3 separate regions of the Homo sapiens genome follow, and all the other regions are linked to region 3. The links come from fine-mapping of genetic effects on gene expression. A gene starts in region 3. Each other region holds a variant in brackets. All regions are shown on one strand. Distances are between the middles of the regions. Region 1 overlaps RABEP1 (rabaptin, RAB GTPase binding effector protein 1). Region 2 overlaps SCIMP (SLP adaptor and CSK interacting membrane protein). Region 3 holds the start of ZNF594-DT (ZNF594 divergent transcript).

The links. PIP is the estimated chance that this variant, and not a neighbour inherited with it, causes the effect.
Region 1: its variant is fine-mapped to the expression of ZNF594-DT in minor salivary gland (GTEx, PIP above 0.99).
Region 2: its variant is fine-mapped to the expression of ZNF594-DT in fibroblasts (GTEx, PIP 0.98).

Annotation. Positions count from the first base shown.
Region 1 is chr17:5,366,646-5,371,645 of GRCh38, reverse strand. It overlaps RABEP1 (rabaptin, RAB GTPase binding effector protein 1), which reads right to left. Exons shown (of 18, transcript NM_004703.6): 12 at 3,178-3,276. Among named protein-coding and RNA genes, the nearest start is that of NUP88, 51 kb to the left of the region's middle. The variant C/T (reference allele first, on the strand shown) is at 2,233.
Region 2 is chr17:5,211,288-5,219,219 of GRCh38, reverse strand. It overlaps SCIMP (SLP adaptor and CSK interacting membrane protein), which reads left to right. Exons shown (of 5, transcript NM_207103.3): 4 at 4,222-4,295. It overlaps ZNF594-DT (ZNF594 divergent transcript), which reads right to left. Exons shown (of 6, transcript NR_152840.1): 3 at 5,011-5,170; 4 at 3,927-4,073. Among named protein-coding and RNA genes, the nearest start is that of SCIMP, 20 kb to the left of the region's middle. The variant A/C (reference allele first, on the strand shown) is at 3,564.
Region 3 is chr17:5,188,799-5,195,933 of GRCh38, reverse strand. ZNF594-DT (ZNF594 divergent transcript) reads right to left here and starts at 3,927. Exons shown (of 6, transcript NR_152840.1): 1 at 3,771-3,927. ZNF594 (zinc finger protein 594) reads left to right here and starts at 4,066. Exons shown (of 2, transcript NM_032530.2): 1 at 4,066-4,186. RefSeq lists a silencer at 3,932-4,131.

The sequences.
Region 1 (5,000 bases), 180 kb before region 3:
GCAGTCACGGCCATGCATATGCTCTGGCTAAAGCCCACTGGCTCTTATTGTCTTCAGACTAGAATCCACTGTGCTTTATGATCACTGTCACCCATTTACAACAAAATCTTAGTATCCCACCACCTTCTGGATATGAAAGAAGGGAAAAAAGAATATGTATATATTTGCTTGTTTTTGTAAAGAGAAAAACAGAAGGATAAGCCAAAAATAAATTAAAATAATTACGTATAAGAGTGAGTGGAAATGGGGTGAAAAGGACAGGGAATGGAAATGGAGCTGAGTATTTATTTTTATACTTTTGATTATGAACCATGTTACATATTCAAAATATAAATCAAGAAAGAAAAATCAAATCTGAAAATGTAATATAAAGAGAAACAGCCCAGGCGCAGTGGCTCACGCCTGTAATCCCAGCACTTTGGGAGGCCGAGGCGGGTGGATCACGAGGTCAGGAGATCGAGACCATCCTGGCTAACACGGTGAAACCCCGTCTCCACTGAAAAAACAAAAAATTCTCCAGGCGTGGTGGCGGGCGCATGTAGTCCCAGCTACTCCAGAGGCTGAGGCAGGAGAATGGCGTGAGCCCGGGAGGCGGAGCTTGCAGTGAGCCGAGATCGCGCCACTGCACTCCAACCTGGGCGACAGAGCAAGACTCCGTCTCAAAAACAAAAAAAAAAAAAGAGAAACAAATGGAGCTAACTATATATCAAATTCCTAATACAACCACAGAGAGAAAAACTAACATTTGAACACAGTACTTAAACTGTAAACCCTTATCTGAGATACAGTCTAAGGGCAGAACTACAAAGAAATGTTGGCCTTTACTTAGTAGATTTGCTGTTGGTAGTAATATTGATATAGTCATTCTGAAACTATTTTGTCCCCACCTTAACCGAGTGATCAAATTTAACATCCCCAGTAATGGAAGCACCCATCATTAACGTGCCTCATTATGTTATGAACCTCCCATTGAACCATTTCATCTGTGCAGTATTCTTGCCAAGATGTCTAACCTGAATCAAATCACAAGGAGATAATCAGACAAATGAATTCTACAAGACAGATGGCCTGAAACAAAGCAATTGGCCGGATTCTTAAAAATAAAAAGAGAGTGGGAGACTGTTCTAGATGAAAAGTGACTAAAGCGACATGGCAACAAGATGAAATATGTGATCACTGATTGGTTCCTGGATCAAAATATAGAAAATATAAAAAGGAAAACCACCACTAAAAAGTAATCAAGGACTTACTGGGACAACTGGTTAAATTTTAAGGATGTAATAACAGTACTGTAGCGATGCAGAACAACTCTTTGTTTTAGGAAATACATACTAAAATACTTACGACTGTCATGTCTACAATAACTCCAAACAGTCCAGCAAAAAACACAAACCAAGACATACGTACACACACACATCATATACCTACAAACATACACAGAAAGACTAAGAACAAGGGCAAGCATGCACTAACGTGGTGAGTTTCTCTTCTTTATGGTAATTTCAACAAAATGGTCATGTACTGGAGTTCATAGGACCTCAACCTTAATTTCAACAGTTCTCCAGTGTCACTGACACACATTCATTTTAAGTGAAACCAGCTTGAAAAGTGTCTGCAAGGGCTGATGGTTTTAAGAGACAAGAAGGAGGCCGGGCACAGTGGCTCATGCCTGTAATCCCAGCACTTTGGGAGGCCAACGCGGGTGGATCACCTGAGGTAGGAGTTCGAGACCAGCCCGACCAACATGGAGAAACCCCGTCTCTACTAAAAATACAAAATTAGCCGGGTGTGGTGGTGCATGCCTGTAATCCCAGCTACTCAGGAGGCTGAGGCAGGAGAATCACTTGAACCCAGGAGGAGGAGGTTGCAGTGAGCCGAGATTGCGCCATTACACTCCAGCCTAGGCAACAAAAGCAGAACTCTGTCTCAAAAAAGAAAAAAAAAAAGACAAGAAGGAAAAAGATGCAAGGGGTCGAAGGAGTGTAGGAGGCTCACCGCTATGAAACTGTCAGTATTTAGCAGTGATTTTTACGCCAGTGTTATATTGTATTTTCTAATTAGAGAAAACACATGAAACTATGGGTCAATGATTAGGATGAGATGCTTCCCAACAGACCAGGTTTAAGATTTAGGGATCAGCTCATAGGCCATTCAGATACTGACCTAATAATGCCAATTAAAAACATTCAATGACCATTCCACCCAAGGCTTTTATTTTTAAACTGTCATCCC[C/T]GGGTAAGCATCAGCCTTGTAGAATCACCCCAGCAGAGCCACCTCTACTTTAATTTAGTTGGAGGCATCAGATGTAGGCTCCAACTTTGAGAAAGGAAAAACAAAGCAAATGCAGCCAGACTAGTGAGGAGGGAGCCCAAGCCTGGGGACTATCTGCAAAGGCTCTAGCCGGCACTTGCTCATAACACTCTGCCCCCATCCCTCTCAGCATAGATGGCCTTCTGGAAGGTCCCCAGCACCACAACAGTTACATGTTTTTTTTCATAACCCCTGTGAAACTAATAAGGTTATTTTTTTTTTCTTTTGAAAGAGAGTCTTGCTGTGTCACCCAGGCTGGAGTGCAGTGGCGCGATCTCAGCTCACTGCAACTTCAGCCTCCCAGGTTCAAGCGCTTCTCCTGCCTCAGCCTCCCGAGTAGCTGGGATTTGCAGGTGCACACCACCACGCCCGGCTAGTTTTTTGTATTTTTAGTACAGATGGGGTTTCACCATGTTAGACAGGATGGTCTCAATCTCCTGACCTCGTGATCCACCCGCCTCAGCCCAGCCCTAATAAGGTTATTCTAAATAAATTAGCCATCCAGGAAAATCACAAAATGACTGGTCAAAAGCTGTACCAGCTAGGGCTCTCAGACATTCAATTTTTTAGCTTTTATTTGGAATTAAAAATTAAATTAGGTCCATAGTTTATTCTGTTTAGGTTTCCCAAATCAGAAAAATAAGTTAAACGATGAGAAAAAATTTTTGTTTGGCCAGAAAGTAGGTTTAAAAAAGGAATAATGTCTTTACAATATTTTGTCCATTATTAATGTTCTACAGTCCCGGGAGAAGACAACAGTAACTACTTTGGACAGGATGATAAATTCCTATCAAAGATGATGTCAAGATAGAACAAAAAAGGAATATATAGTAACATAGTTGTCATTTACTTAAAATGTAAACTTACCATCTGTTCCTGAACATCCCTCTTTGCCTGGGAAAGCCCCTGCTGTAACTCTTCAAGTAAGATCTCGGAGGCCTGGGCTCTTAGGACGAGTGCAGAGATCTTTAAAAAAACACATGTATAGAAACATAGTTAGGAAATCGGTTATTCTGAAACTAACTCTTCCATCTTCTAACTATTTAGTGTCTGGAATTGACATTTTATTTGTTCATGGGAACCACTGACCATCATCCAACAGCTGCATGCACATCTGCTATGTGCAAAGCCTTGGCCTTTCAGATAACACAAGGCAGTGCCAAAACCCGAGTCACATGCAGCCATACATTAACAAAGAGCATTCTATGGGTTTCTAGGCAGACAGTAACTCACGTGACCTAGTTGTAGCTATGTTTAAAGATGTTTAAAAAAAAAATCAGGCTGGGTGCAGTGGCTTATGCCTGTAATCCCAGCACTTTGGGAGGCTGAGGCGGGCAGATCACCTGAGGTCAGGAGTTCGAGACCAGCCTGGCCTGCATGGTAAAACCCCATCTCTACTAAAAGTAAAAAAAAATTAGCTGGGTGTGGTGGCGGGCACCTGTATTCCAGCTACTCGGGAGGCTGAGGCAGGAGAATTGCTTGAAAACCGGGAGGCAGAGGTTGCAGTGAGCCCAGAACGCACCCTGTACTCTAGCCTGGGCAACAAGAGCAAAACTCCATCTCGGGTTTAAAAAAAAAAGAGAGAAAATTTTATTTCACATAAATCACAGTGCAGAATTTAGCACAAAAAAAAGGCAAACAGACCAACTGAACAGAAGATAGTTCTGAAACTAATCTACACAGAGCAATGGGGGAAAGGTGGATCTTTTCACCAAGTCATACAGAAATTGGCTATCCATACTTTTTTTAAAAAAAAGTTTTACCCTTGGCTGGGCACGGTGACTCACGCCTGTAATCCTAGCACTTTGGGAGGCCGAGGCGGATGGATCACAAAGTCAGGAGTTCGAGACCAGCCTGGCCAAGATGGTGAAACCCCGTCTCTACTAAAAATAAAAAATTAGCCGGGCGTGGTGGCGGGTGCCTGTAGTCCCAGCTACTCAGGAGGCTGAGGCAGGAGAATCGCTTGAACCTGGGAGGCAGACGTTGCAGTGAGCCAAGATCGTGCCACTGCACTCTAGCCTGGGCGACACAGCGAGACAAAAAAGTTTTACCCTTATCTACACTGTGTGTGTGTGTGTGTGTGTGTGTGTATCTAAGTTCTAGAGGAATTTTAGATATAAATGTGAATAAAACCTCTATAATATAGGATATCTTCATAACTCCATAGGAAAAGATTCCTTTTTAAAAAGGAGGAAAATCACAAACCATAAAGAAATAATTAATAAATTTGATTTTTTTTTTTCTTTCAGACGGAGTTTCACTCTTGTTGCCCAGGCGGGAGTGCAATGGCATGACCTTGGCTCACTGCAACCTCCGCCTCCCGGGTTCAAGCGATTCTCCTGCCTCAGCCTCCCAAGTGGCTGGGATTACAGGAATGCGCCGAAACACTCGGCTAATTTTGTATTTTTAGTAGAGACAGGGTTTCTCCATGTTGGTCAGGCTGGTCTCAAACTCCTGACCTCAGGTAATCTGCCCGCCTCGGCCTCCCAAAGTGCTGGGATTACAGGTGTGAGCCACCGTGCCCGGCCAAATTTGACTACATTATTAAGGACTTCTGTTCATTAAAAGACACCATTAATGAAGACATAAGCTACTGATGGGCCAGGTGCATGGCTCACACCTAGCACTTTGGGAGGCCGAGGCAAGTGGATCACCTGAGGTCAGGAGTTCAGGACCAGCCTGGCCAACAA
Region 2 (7,932 bases), 23 kb before region 3:
AGTCTCCTGAATAGCTGGGATTACAGGCGCGCGCCACCACACCTGGCTAATTTTTTGTATTTTTAGTAGAGACGGGGTTTCGCTATGTTGGCCAGGCTGGTCTCGAACTCCTAACCTCGTGATCTGCCCATCTCGGCCTCCCAAAGTGCTGGGATTACAGGCGTGAGCCACCACGCCCGGCCGGAGACACTCTTATTAGGAAGAATATTCCAAGGGTTTAGAGATTATTTCCCAGGAGCCAGTCAAGAGCCAGTCCTTTCTTTGGAGTATACACACTATCTAAAACAAAACTTACACTTGGGGCGAGGTGCAGTGGCTCATGCCTGTAATCTCAGCACTTTGCCAAAGTGGGAGTATCACTTGAGGCCAGGAGTTCAAGACCAGCCTGGACAACATAGTGAGACCCTGTATACAAAACATTTTTAAATCTCTGCTTTTCTAAAATGGCTTTTGTTGTAGCTTCAGGGATCCAGCAAATAAGACTCCCCCTGCCTCCATCAATTCTGATCCCTTTCAAGAATAAGACAAATGTGTCAGGCAGTCAGGTGACTAAATATTGCCTTTTTTAAGAATAAAACTGGGGCCAGGTGCAGCAGCTCACACCTGTAATCCCAGACTTTGGGAGGCCGATGCAGGCAGATCACCTGAGGTCAGGAGTTCGAGACCAGTCTGGCCAACATGGTGAAACCCTGTCTCTACTAAAAATACAGAAATTAGCTGGGCATGGTGGTGTGTGCCTGTAATCCCAGCTACTTGGGAGGCTAAGGCAGGAGAATTGCTTGAACCCAGGAGGTGGAGGTTGCAGTGATCCAAGATCGTGCCACTGCACTCCAGCCTGGGTGACGAGTGAAACTCAGTCTCAAAAAAAAAAAAGCAAAAAACTAAAACTGGTATTGGCCAGGGGCAGTGGTTCATGCCTATAATCCCAGCACTTGGGAGGCCCAAGTGGGAGGATGGCTTGAGGCCAGGAGTTTGAAACCAGCCTGGGCAACATAGTGGGGACCCATATCTGAGAAAAATACCAAAATTAGCCAGGTGTGGTGGTGTCTGCCTGTAGTCCCAGCTACTTGGGAGGCTGAGGTGGGAGGATTGCTTGAACCCCTGAGGTCAGGGCAGCAGTGAGCTGTGATCGTGCCACTGAACTCCAGCCTGGGTGTCAAAGTGAGACCCTGTCTCAAAAAAAAAAAATGTTGGTGGGACGGTAAACTAGTTCAACCATTGTGGAAGTCAGTGTGGCGATTCCTCAGGGATCTAGAACTAGAAATACCATTTGACCCAGCCATCCCATTACTGGGTATATACCCAAAGGACTATAAATCATGCTGCTATAAAGACACAGGCACACGTATGTTTATAGCAGCACTATTCACAATAGCAAAGACTTGGAACCAACCTAAATGTCCAACAACGATAGAATGGATTAAGAAAATGTGGCACACATACACCATGGAATACTATGCAGCCATAAAAAATGATGAGTTCATGTCCTTTGTAGGGACATGGATGAAACTGGAAACCATCATTCTCAGCAAACTATCGCAGGGACAAAAAAACAAACACCGCATGTTCTCACTCATAGGTGGGAATTGAACAATGAGAACACATGGACACAGGAAGGGGAACATCACACACCGGGGACTGTTGTGGGGTGGGGGGAGGGGGGAGGGATAGCATTAGGAGATATACCTAATGCTAAATGACGAGTTAATGGGTGCAGCACATCAACATGGCACACGTATACACATGTAACAAACCTGCACGTTGTGCACATGTACCCTAAAACTTAAAGTATAATAATAATAAAACAAACACACACACACACACACACACACACACACAAGCAAACAAAAAAGAATAAAACTGGGATTGCAGAATGTGGCTCTTTTCTGTGAGCTAGTGAGTTTCCTAATTTGGAACCGGGTGACTTTCCTAACCAGTTCACAGGCAGCTCCGGAAAACCTCAGGTCTCCCCCACCGAGTAGACCCCTTTTTCTGAATGGCAAAGACCAGAGCAGGATTTGTGAATTCTGCAGTCAGGCCAGCTCTGGAGGAGAAAGTGAGAGGAGCTAGACTTTTCCCAAATTTAGCAGTCAGATGAGTTGCTTTCTTCTCTTAGGAAGAGCTACAGAGGGATGGTGAGAGCCGCCGGTGGAGCTCTACCCCCATGTCCCCGTCTGCACTCAACCTAACAACCTAAAAATGTTTATTCATTCTCAGGGGGACTTTATAGCATATAGGAGTCAAATCAGTGTACCTAGGGGGATGGAGGCCCAAGTAAGGAAGTTTTCTTAGAGTTTATCTTTTAGTTAAAACTTTGTACCAAAGTATCATATAAATACAGGAAAATGGAAATACTGAGTGTGCAACCTGATGAATTTCCACGAACTCAACAGACCCAGGTCACTGGCACCCAGATCAAGAAATAGGACGTTACCAGCACTTCAGAGGCTGACTTTATACAGCCTTTCAACCATTACATCCCAAAGGCAATCACTGTCTGTGATAGTATAAATTAGCTTTTTGGGTTTTTTTTGTTTTTTGTTTTTTTGTTTTTGAGATGGAGTCTCACTCTGTTGCCCAGGCTGGAGTGCAGTGGCGCGATCTTGGCTCTCTGTAACCTCCGCCTCCCAGATTCAAGCAATTCTTCTGCCTCAGCCTCCTGAGTAGCTGGGATTATAGGCATGCGCCACCACACCTGGCTAATTTTTGTATTTTTAGTAGAGACTGGGTTTCATCATGTTGGCCAGGCTAGTCTCGATCTCCTGACCTCATGATCTGCCTGCCTTGGCCTCCCAAAGTGCTGGAATTACAGGCATGAGCCACCGTGCCCAGCAGCTTTTTGGTTTTTATGCAATCTATTAATGGCATCATATAGTATATATTATTTGGTGTTTGGCTTTTTTGCTCAACATCATTTTTATGAGATTCATTGTGTGTAGTTGTAGATTGTTCATTCTTGTTGCTATAGAACATTCCACCGTGGGAGTACACCAGTATTTATTTATTTATTTATTTATTTTGAGACAAGGTCTCACTCTCAACCAGGTTGGAGTACAGTGGTGCAATCATAGCTCACTGTCACCTCAAATTTTGGGCTCAAGTGATCCTCTTGCTTCAGTCTCCTGAGTAGCTGGGACTACAGGTGTATGCCACCACAACCTGCTAATTATGTTGATTTTTTTGTAGAGACTGGGTCTCCCTGTGTTGCCCAGGGTCTCCCTATATTACCCTTAAACCCCTGGGCTCAAGCCATCCTCCCTCTTTCGCCTCCCAAAGTGCTGGGATTACCAATGTCAGCCACCTTGCCCAGTCACTTTACCATAATTAATCTATCCATTCTACTGCTGATGGACATTTGAGTTGTGTGATGGCAAATTTTATGTGTCTGTGCTTCTCTGGACAACCCAGACTAATACAGGTCGTGTCCAATTCAGAGCTGTTATGAATAGTGTTGCTCTGAACATTCTAATGCATGTTTTGGTGAACAGATGCGAGCATTTCAATAGTCTGTAGACCCAGTAGTGGAAATGCTGACTCAAGGTGTGTGTACATTCTGCTTTAGG[A/C]GTTCATCTGCTTTTGTTTTTTGTTTTTTTATTTGTTTGTTTTGAGACAGAGTCTCACTCTGTTGCCTAGGCTGGAGTGCAGTAGCATGATCTCGGCTCACTGCAACCTCCGCCTCCGAAGTTCAAGTGATTCCCCTGCCTCAGCCTCCCGAATAGGTGGGATTACAGGTGAGCATCATCATGCCCAGCTGATTTTTGTATTTTTAAGTAGAGACAGGGTTTCACCATATTGGCCAGGCTGGTCTTGAACTCCTGACCTCAGGTGATCCGCCTGCCTCGGCCTCCCAAAGTGCTGGGATTACAGGCATGCGCCACCATGCCCGGCTCATCTGTTTTGCAAATAGAAATACATCTGGTGCCTACCTCTCCGAATCCAGCTCAGGTGAACCAGGAAGGTGTGCTCCATGCTCTGAATTATAGCACTTTATTTCCCTCCCCTCATTTTCAGCCATTTCCAGGGCTACAGAAAACGGTTTCATTAGGGTGCCAATTACAAATGGGAACCAGGACCTACAAAGGAAAGGAAATGCTTCCAATTAGTAGAGACCAAGATTTGAATGTTCAACCCATTCACTTTCCTTGATGTTTTCTCTTAAATCGGCTGGGAGCAGGCATGGCCCAAACCAAACACTGATTCTCTCTCTTTCTCTCTCTCTAGGAATGTTCTTAATGAGTCGCCAGTTCAATTACCGCCTCTGCCACCGAGGAATTGGCCTTCTCTAGAAGACTCTTGTAAGTATATTTTACTGGTAGCAGTTTCATTTAGGGTAAGATAACGAGTTTATCAAGGTGTCTTTTTTTTTTTTTTTTTTTTTTTTAGATGGAGTCTTGCTCTGTCACCCAGGCTGGAGTGCAATGGCACGATCTCGGCTCACTGCAAGCTCCGCCTCCCGGGTTCATGCCATTCTCCTACCTCAGCCTCCGGAGTAGCTGGGACTACAGGCACCCGCCACCACGCCCAGCTAATTTTTTGTATTTTTAGTAGAGAAGGAGTTTCACCGCGTTAGCCAGGATGGTCTCGATCTCCTGACCTCGTGATCCACCGGCCTCGGCCTCCCAAAGTGCTGGGATTATAAGCGTGAGCCACTTTTTTTTGTTTTTGAGATGGAGTCTCGCTCTGTCCCCCAGGCTGGAGTGCAGTGGCGCGATCTCCACTCACTGCAAGCTCCGCCTCCCAGGTTCACACCATTCTCCCACCTCAGCCTCCTGAGTAGCTGGGACTACAGGTGCCCACCACCACGCCTGGCTAATTTTTTGTATTTTTAGTAGAGACGGGGTTTCACCATGTTAGCCAGGATGGTCTAAATTTCCTGACCTCATGATCTGTCCACCTCGGCCTCCCGAAGTGCTGGGATTACAGGTGTGAGACACCACGCCCGTCCCCTATGAAGGTGTCTTAGATAGCTCAGGCTGCTGTAACAAAAATACCATAGACTGGGGTGCTTACACAACAGAAATTTGTTTTCTCGTTGTTCTGAAGCTGGAAGCCCGAGATGAGGGTGTTGGCCGATTTCTGTGAGGTTTCTGGTGAGGGTTCTCCTCCTGGCTTGCAGACAGCTGCCTTCTTGCTATGTCCCCACAAATGGCCTTTCCTTGGTGCATTCAAGCTGGGGAAGAGCATCAGGGAGTCAGATTTCTGGTGTTTCTTCTTACAAGGACACTGATCCTGTTGGATCAAGGCCTCATCCCTATGGCCACATATAGCCTCACTGGGGGTTAAGGCTTGAACACCTGAATTTTGGGGGGACACAAACATTCAGTCTGTAACACTAGGATTTATAGATGCAGCATCCTGATTATTTTATTTTTGAGGCAGAGTCTTGGTTTCTCACCCAGGCTGGAGTGCAGTGGCATGATTTCAGCTCACTGCAATCTCCACTTCCTAGGTCCAAGCTATTTTCCTGCCTCAGCCTCCTGAGTAACTGGGATTATAGGCGTGCACCACCACACTCAGCTAATTTTTTGTATGTTTAGTAGAGACGGGGTTTCACCATATTGACCAGGCTCGTCTTGAACTCCTGACCTCAAGTGATCCACCCGCCTCGACCTCCCAAGGTGCTGGGATTACAGGCATGAGCCACCACACACAGCCAGCATCCTGTTTAAAAGAGATAGCCAGAGGCCAGGCACAGTGGCATATGCTTGTAATACCAACACTTTGGAAGGCCAGGGCGGGCTGATGACTTGAGCTCAGGAGTCTGAGAACAGCCTGGGCAACATGGCAAAATCCTATCTTTACAAAAATTAGCCAGCGTGATGGTGCACACTTATAGTCCCAGCTACTTGGAAGGCTGAGGTGGGGGGATCGCTTGAGCCTGGGAGGTCTGCAGTGAGCCACGATAGCATCACTGCACCTGGACGACAGAGTGAGACCCTGTCTCAAAAAAAAAAAAAAAAGGGATGGAAAAGCAAAAAGGGGGCAGCATAAGTACCGACGCACCCAATAGCCTGATATAAGGGTGTAAATTCATGTTCAAATCCCAGCTTGGAACATAAACAGAAAGAAACATGGGGTGTCACTAGGCCTTTCACTTCCTATCAGAAAAACTCTGCCTGGTTCCTTTGACTGGAATGTTCTTCCTTAAGCTCTTTGCCTCGCTGGATTTTCCTCATCCTTCAGATGTCAGCTCAGAAGTTACCACCTCAAAGAGGCCCTCTCTGTCCACTCAACCTAAAGTAGTTCTGCTAATTTCCTTTATGAAACTGACAGTTATCCAAAATTGTGTTATTTACTTATTGTTCATTTATGTATTATTGATCTCCTCCACTGGAGTATAAACTTCAGGAACACAGGAACCTTTTTTGTCCACCACTATTAATATTTATCCACTACCTAGAACAGGGCGTGAGGCTCAGTCGATACTTAAGAAAAATATTTTGATTGGATAGATAAATAATATTAGCTAACATTTATTGAGCATGCGCTGTGTTTCAGGTCCCACACTAAGCACTTTACAGGTATTAGCTCATTCACTCCTCACAACTCTACAAGCCAGGTACATTTTTTTGTTTGTTTGTTTTTTGAGATGGAGTCTCGGTCTGTCGCCCAGGCTGGAGTGCAGTGGCGCAATCTCGGCTCACTGCAAGCTCCACCTCCCGAGTTCATGCCATTGTCCTGCCTCAGCCTCCTGGGTAGCTGGGACTACAGGTGCCTGCCACCATGCCTGGCTAATTTTTTGTATTTTTAGTAGAGATGGGGTTTCACCATGTTAGCAAGGATGATCTCGATCTCCTGACCTCGTGATCCACCCACCTCAGCCTCCCAAAGTGCTGGGATTACAGGCGTGAGCCACCGCGCCCGGCCCAAGCCAGGTACATTTTTATTCCTCTGTGACAGATGAGGATGCTCAGGCACAGATAAGTGACTTACCTATAGTCACACAGCTAATGACTGCTGGAACGTGAACATGAACTCTGGTCTGTCAAACTGCAGAGTTCTGCAAATAGTGGCATTTCAGGTTTTCTTAGGAAAAGATGAGATTGTGGGAGAGGCAGTTCCAATCCCCATCAAAGATGGAGCTGAGCTGTTTCATCATCCTTCTATTACTTATGGACCTGTTCTTTTTGTTTGTTTTTTGTTTCTTTTTCTTTCTTTCTTTCTTTTTTTTTGAGACAGAGTCTCGCTCTGTTGCCCAGGCTAGAGTGCAATGGTGCAATCTTGGCTCACTGCAACCTCTGCCACCTGGGTTCAAGCAATTCTCCTGTCTCAACCTCCCGAGTTGCTGGGATTATAGGCACCCGCCATCACGCCCAGCTAATTTTTGTATTTTTGTAGAGACAGAGTTTCATCAGGCTGGTCTCGAACTCCCGACCTCAGGTGATCTGCCCACTTCAGCCTCCCAAAGTGCTGGGATTACAGGCATAAGCCACCGCGCCCCAGCCTCCTATGAACCTGTTCTGTACTAATTCCACCTTTTGAAAACAACGCCATCCCCTTTCTTCTTAGAGAGATTTGTACATAAGCAATTACAGAGAGTCCTGGAAAACAGTGTAAGTCACTGGAAGGGATGTGCCAAAAAGGAAATATGATTTGTTTCACTTCCTTGTAAAAATTAGGATCTGTAACACAACAGCACTCATATGACTACTGGGCTCTGGTCTGTTTCTTTTCATCCATTCTTTTTTTTTTTTTGGAGACAGGGTCTTACCATGTTGTCCAGGCTGAAGTGCAGTGGCGTGATCATGGCTCGTTGTAGCCTTAACCTCCTGGGCTCAGGAAATCCTCTTGCCTCAGCCTCCCAATTAGCTGGGACTATAGGCATGCACCACCACATCCGGCTAATTTTTAAATTTTTCTGTAGGGACGAGGGTCTCCCTGTGTTGCCCAAGCTGGTCTGGAACTCCTGGGCTCAAGTGATCCTCCCACCTG
Region 3 (7,135 bases):
CAGATTGAATTGAATTAGAGGACAGCTATCTGGTGTCTGCTAGAGAATTGCTCAGTATGTGGAGAAAGCCCCCACCCATCTGGTGTCAGAAGTATTGTGTTGAGTGACCGCATAAGACAGTAAAGAGGGCCAGGCTCAGTGGCTCATGCCTGTAATCCCAGCACTTTGGGAGGTTGAGGCAGGCAGACCGTGAGGTCAAGAGATCGAGACCATCCTGGCCAACATGGTGAAACCCCGTCTCTACTAAAAATACAAAAATTAGCCAGGTGTGGTGGTGCGCGCCTGTAGTCCCAGCTACTCAGGAGGCTGAGGCAGGAGAATCGCTTGAACCCAGGAGGCAGAGGTTGCAGTGAGCTGAGATCACACCACTGCACTCCAGCCTGGTGACAGAGCAAGACTCTGTCTCAAATAAAATAAAATAAAATAAAATAAAATAAGCTCCAAGACCGGGCACGGTGGCTCACGCCTGAAATCCCAGCAGTTTGGGTTTGGGAGGCTGAGATGGGAGGATTGCTTGAGCCCAGGAGTTCAAGACTAGCCTGGGCAACATAGTGAGACTCAGTTTCTCCAAAAGTACAAACATTTTCTGGGTGTTGTGGTGTGCACCTGTGGTCTCAGCTACTTGGGATGCTGAGGTGGGAGGATTGTTTCAGCCTGGGAGTTTGAAGCTGCACTGACCTGTGATTGCACCGCCATACTCCAGCGTGGGCCACAGAGTGGAGCCTCCCATCTCAGTTAAAAAGAAAAGAAAAGAAAAGAAATCTGGTAGGCCAGGAGTGGTGGCAGGTTTGGCTCATGCTTGTAATCCCAGCACTCTGGGAGTCTAAGGTGACAGGATTGCTTGAAGCCAGGAGTTCCAGAACAGCCTGGTCGATCTAGGCAGACCCCATATCTACAAAAAACTAAAAACAAAATTAGCCAGGCATGGTGGCAGTACCTGTAGTCCCAGCCACTCAGAAGGCTGGAGGATCACTTGAGCCCAGGAGGATGAGGCTGCAGTGAGCTATGATCATGCCACTGACAGAGTGAGACCTTGTCTCTTAAAAAAAAAAAAAAAAAAAATCTGTCAGGGTTAGTTGTCGTCAGAACCATTTTACATGTGTACGAATGTTTTCTTGTAATTCTTATACTACTTTTAAAATAACAAAATAAAGTTTAAAAAAATTTATTTTAAGAACTGAGATCTGCATAAGCCAGAAAAATGAAAATGGGAGGCAGTGGGTGTGGGGAAGACAGCAGCTGCATTTTTTTATTGAGAAATATATAAGTCTTGCCAAAAGTGGTTATTTTGGCTTTTTAGTCTTAAAAAGAATAGCTCTTCTTTTTGATCTCCTTTAGAGTTCACATGCTACCCCTGACAGCAGCATGGATTCATTATGTAATTTATTCATTCTACAAATATGTATGGAGTGCTGGCTCTGTGCCGGGCACTGGTGATACAGTGAATGTTGAGGAAAACCCAAGGCACTCTCAGGGAACCTGAAGTCATGTGGAGCTCTTTTATGTCATGCATGTTATCCCTTTTCCTATCATGCATGTTACAAATATTTTCCCTTTTAATACTTTCACGATCTACACCACTTCTTTTTTCTTTTTTCTTTTCTTTTTTTTTGAGAAGAGTCTCGCTCTGTCACCCAGGGTGGAGTGCAGTGGCGCGATCTTGGCTCACTGCAACCTCCGCTTCTCCAATTCAAGCGATTCTCCTGCCTCAGACTCCCAGGTGGCTGAGACTACAAGCACGCACCACGACATCCAGATAATTTTATTTTTTTTTTGAGACGGAGTCTTGCTCTATCGCCCAGGCTGGAGTGCAGTGGCAAAATCTTGGCTTACTTAAGCTCTGCCTCCTGGGTTCACGCCACTCTCCCGCCTCAGCCTCCCTAGTAGCTGGGACTACAGGCTCATGCTGCCATGCGCGGCTAATTTTTTTTTATTTTTTTTATTTTTTAGTACAGACGGAGTTTCACCATGTTGGCCAGGCTGGTCTTGAACTCCTAACCTCAAGTGATCCACTCGCCTCAGCCTCCCAAAGTGCTAGGATTACAGGCATGAACCACCTCGCCCAGCCTGTACGATTTTTTTTAAACCCATTTATTTTATTTTATTTATTTGTTATACTTTAAGTTATAGGGTACATGTGCACAACGTGCAGGTTTGTTACATAGGTATACATGTGCCATGTTGGTTTGCTGCACCCATCAACTCGTCATTTACATTAGGTATTTCTCCTAATGCTATCCCTCCCCCAGCCCCCCACCCCCCACCAGCCCTGGTATGTGATGTTCCCCACCCTCTATCCATGTGTTCTCATTGTTCAACTCCCACTTATGAGTTCTAACTCATTTTTGCCTCCCAGAGGATCCCGGTGTCTTAGCTGTGGATCTCTCAATACTTGCAGGTCACAGGGCCACAGAGGCTGGGCCTCTAGGAGCAGAGGACACGGAACAGTCTATTTTTTTTTTTATTTTTTTGAGACAGTGTCTTGCTCTGTTGCCCAGGCTGGAGTGAAGTGGTTCCATCTCGGCTCACTGCAACCTCCACCTCCCGGGTTCAAGCTATTTTCCTGCCTCAGCCTCCCGAGTAGCTGGAACTACAGGCGCCTGCCATCATGCCAGTTAATTGTTTTGCATTTTTAGTAGAGACGGGGGTTTCACCATGCTGGCCAGGCTGGTCTTGAACTCCTGAGCTCAAGTGATGCGGCCTCCTAGGCCTCCCAAAGTGCTGGGATTACAGGTGTGAGCCACCGTGCCCTGCCTTAAAAACCCATTTCTAAATTCCAAAGAGTAACTTCTATTAGTGCACTCTTATTAAGAGAGGTAAAGCAAAAGGAACTATAAAAGCAACTATAATTGAAGTCTATTTGAGACATGGCTCAGTATTTCAATGAAAATGTAACACAGTCAATGAAATACTATCTCAAATGTAGTTGTGCAAATTAAGGAATAGTTGGTAGTAGCTGCATTTACAAATTCAAGAGTGAAACGTGCATAATTCGTGCAACCCAAAGTTTGGGACAGAGAGATATGAGAAGCCAAAGTGACTAGTGCACTGACAGTTTTGCTTCGGAAAGGCTTGGGGTTGGACATCTTACATCTTTACATACATATATAACCCTTACCACGATCCTACGCTACGCGAACCAACATCATCTCCATAGTAATAACTAATATGTATCTGGCCTTCGCCACATGCAAACTTCACATACATATGTCAGTGAGGTCGGTCCTATTATTTACCTCACTTTACAAATGAAGCAACGGAGGCGCGAAGAAGCTATTAATAGGTAACTTGTTCAAAGTCACATAGCCCCTAAGTGGTGGGGCAAGGATTCTGAGTGTCTGACTTTCTCACTTCGGAACTTACACTTTTAAACATTAAGCTGTCCTTGTTGGGATCTGTATCGCCTAGCCTTTGACCGGGCATTGCAAATAGAAGTCATCAATGAATGAGACCACAAATGCATGCAGGGAACAATAACAAAAGATGAAAACAGAACAGGCAGAACAGGAGTTCGAGACTAGCCTGGCCAACATGGCGAAACCCCGTCTCTACTAAAAATACAAAAATTAGCAGGGCGTGGTGGTGGGCGCCTGTAATCCCAACTACTGGGGAGGCCGAGGCAGGAGAATCGCTTGAACCTGGGAGATGGAGGCTGCAGTGAGCCGAGATCGCGCCATTGCACTCCGGCCTGGGCGAAAGAGCGAGACTCCATCTCAAAAACAAAACAAAAGGGCAGAACAAAAACGTAGTTACTTGAAGGGGTCACTCACCCCGGACCCGACCGTGCCACAGCCCCGACGCCACGCATGTCTAGGACCAGCTGAGGACGCGGCCTCTCGGCGGTAACCTTGGTAACCAGCCAGCGCGCCGCTGGCCCTCCGGAAGTCAGACTCCGCCGGGCTGAGCCGAGCTACGCCAGCGCCGACTGGCGTCGTGGAGGAGTCTGCGCAGAGGAGACACCTGATCCGGTGGGAGACGGCCAGGGGAGCGCGCGCGGATTGGCTGGAGCCGACGGGGGACGGCTGGGCGGGGCGCGGACTGGGGGACCGCAGTCCCGGGGAGCGCACCGGAAGTTCTCGCCTGGCCCAGGCGCGGGGTCCAAGATGGTGGCGCTAGGAGCCGCGACCCAGTGATAGCGGCCGTGGAGGGGCCCCCGACCGAGCGGGAGGTTGGGGGTAGCCTGGAGGTGAGACCCCGCTGCGTTCACAGAGCTGGCGGCCGCGGCGCCTGCGTCCACCGGCAAGCGAGGAGTGGAGCAGAGCTCATATGCCTATGGGGAGAGGCCTGGGGGACCGCAGGAGGATGTAGGCGCCGGGTGCGCATGACTGGGCCTTCTTGCTCTCGGTCGGCTTCTTGGTCTCGGCGTGCCCCATTCCCGGCCCTGTCCCGCTACTCTTGCCTGTTCCAGTTCCCTCCTGTGGGTACCGCTAACGGCATCTTCCCGAGGCCCAGAATCCACCGTCAGGCATAAATTGATTATTCCTCGCCCACATCTGTGCCAGGTATATTTGTATATGTAACCAAATCTGGTTTTTGCATCCCACGAGTGACCCCGCTGGGGAGGCTAGACTAAGCCACAGGAATGAACTGTATTGTTCATATATGTTCTACTACTCAGTCTAAAATATTAGGACTGTTAGAGTTCAAACAAGGGAGGGATTTAGGTGGGCTGGTCTCTTTGTAAGGGTCTACATTGCTTTTAGGAGCAGCTTCTATTGTGACCAAGCGAGTTACAGAGAAACGCCACACTTTGAGACAAATTAAAGAGTCCTTATTAGCCGGCAACCGAGAGGCAGCTAGCGCCCAAAATTTTCTCGGCCCTGAGGAAGGGGCTAGTTTTGTTTTTATACCGTGGTCTAAATAGGGGAGGGGGGATTTTAGCTGAAGCAATTTTTACAGAAGCAGAACTGGCAAAAAGTTGAAAAATTAATTGGTTACAAATGCAGTTACAAAATATAAACAGTTCCAATTGCACGGGCTTAAACTATCACAAAGAGATAAATGCAGGGGTTTTGCTTGCCATCCACCGAGCGCGTCCCCAGGAGCTGCTGGTGCAGCTTGCCTCAATATCTTATCAGTAGGTGCATTCCTGGACGTGCTTTGAGTCAGTTTACACTAGCTATGCCTTAAGGGAGGGAGGTGAAAGGGGGCTGCCAGTGGAGAAACTAAAATGGAGTCTGTCCGGCTCTCTCTCTGCTAGGAGAGAGTCACTCAGGTTAAAACAAAGTAGGGTATCACACTTCAAAAGTCATTTCTTTTGGGAAGCCTTCCCGGATTGCCACCGCAGCGCTTTTAGCATCTAATTCATAGGCTCTTACTACCTTGTTTCATGTGTGAGTCTTCCTCTAGGCATAGATTCTTTGTTTAGCTTCACCTAATGCGTGCCCATGAATGTGAATTAAAAAGGATTGACATAGTTAAAAGATACTAAGAACTGGGCATGAAATAGTGGCATTTCTTAAGTTAAAAAATAGTGGCCCCTAGGCCAGCTTTGAGTGTAGACACATTTTCTTGGCTCATGCTGTTTGTTTTTATTTGAATTAATGGCCAACTTCCTTTTTTTTCTTAAGACAGAGTCTCGCTCTGTCAACAGACTAGAGTGCAGTGGTGCGATCTCGGCTCACTGCAACCTCCGCCTCCCAGGTTCAAGCGATTCTCCTGCCTCAGCCTTCCGAGTAGCTGGGACTACAGGCATGTGCCACCACGCCCAGCTAATTTTGTATTTTTAGTAGACACAGGATTTCTCTCCATGTTGGTCAGGCTGGTCTCGAACTCCCAACCTCTGGTACTCTGCCTGCCTCAGCCTCCCAAAGTGCTGGAATTACAGGTGTGAGCCACTGCGCCCGGCCTGTGTTTGCTCTTTTCTTTAGGAACACTAATTATATGTATTTGATTATCTTTCTTTAGTTACTGGTTTTCTCTGTAATCACATTTGTATTCATTTCATTTTTTATTATTTCTCCAGGCCTCATTGTGACCTTGTAGTGATTATTTTTGTTGTTCCTTATGTGAATTTCATCTACATAATGCTTTTTATTTGCCCTTCCATTTCTTTCCTCAGCATTGTCAAATCACTTCTCACTACTTTTTATTGTTTTCTAATCTAATTTGTTTTTGGCCAGGCATGGTGGCTCATGTCTGTAATCTCAGCACTTTGGGAGGCTGAAGAATCCCTTGAGGCCAGGAGTTTGAGACCTGCCTGGGCAACATAGCAAGACCTTTTCTCTACAAAAAAATTATTTAAACTAGCTGGGTATGGTGGTGTGCCTATGGTGTCAGGCTGAAGTGGGAGGATTGCTTGAGCCCAGGAGTTTGAGGTTGCAGTGAGCTATGATTGCACCACTGCACTCCAGCCTGGGTGACAGAATGAGAGCATGTATGAAAAAAACAAAACAAGCTGGGCACAGTGGCTCACGCCTGTAATGCTAGCACTTTGGGAGGCTGAGGCAGGAAGATCCCTTGAGGCCAGGAGTTCCAGAACACCCTGGACAACACGGCAAGCCCCATCTCTACAAAAACTTAGCCATGTGTGCTGCAGCATGCCTGTAATCCCAGCTACTTGGGAGGCTGAGGTGGGAGAATCATCTCAGCCTGGGAGGTCAAGGCTGCAGTGAACCATGATTACACCACTGCACTCCAGCCTGGGTGACAGAGACCCTGTCTCCAAAAAAAAAAGTGAAAAAAAAATGGCCTGGCACAGTGGCTCACACCTATAACCCCAGCACTTTGGGAGGCCAAGGTGGGAGGATCACTTGAAGCCAGGAGTTCAAGACCAGCCTGGGCAGTATACTGAGGCCCCATTGCTATTATTTTTTCCTTTCTCTTTTCTTTTTTTTTTTGGCTACATGACTCAATATTTTTTTTTAAATTAAAAATGTCAAATTTTTGGCTGGGCGTGGTGGCTCACCCCTGTAATCCCAGCACTTTGGGAGGCCAAGGCGGGCAGATCACGAGGTCAGGAGATCGAGACCATCCTGGCTAATGTGGTGAAACCCCGTCTCTACTAAAAGTACAAAAAATTAGCTGGGCGTACTGGTGGGCGCCTGTAGTCCCAGCTACTCGGGAGGCTGAGGCAGGAGAATGGCGTGAACCCGGGAGGCGGAGCTTGCAGTGAGCCGAGATCGCGCCATTGCAC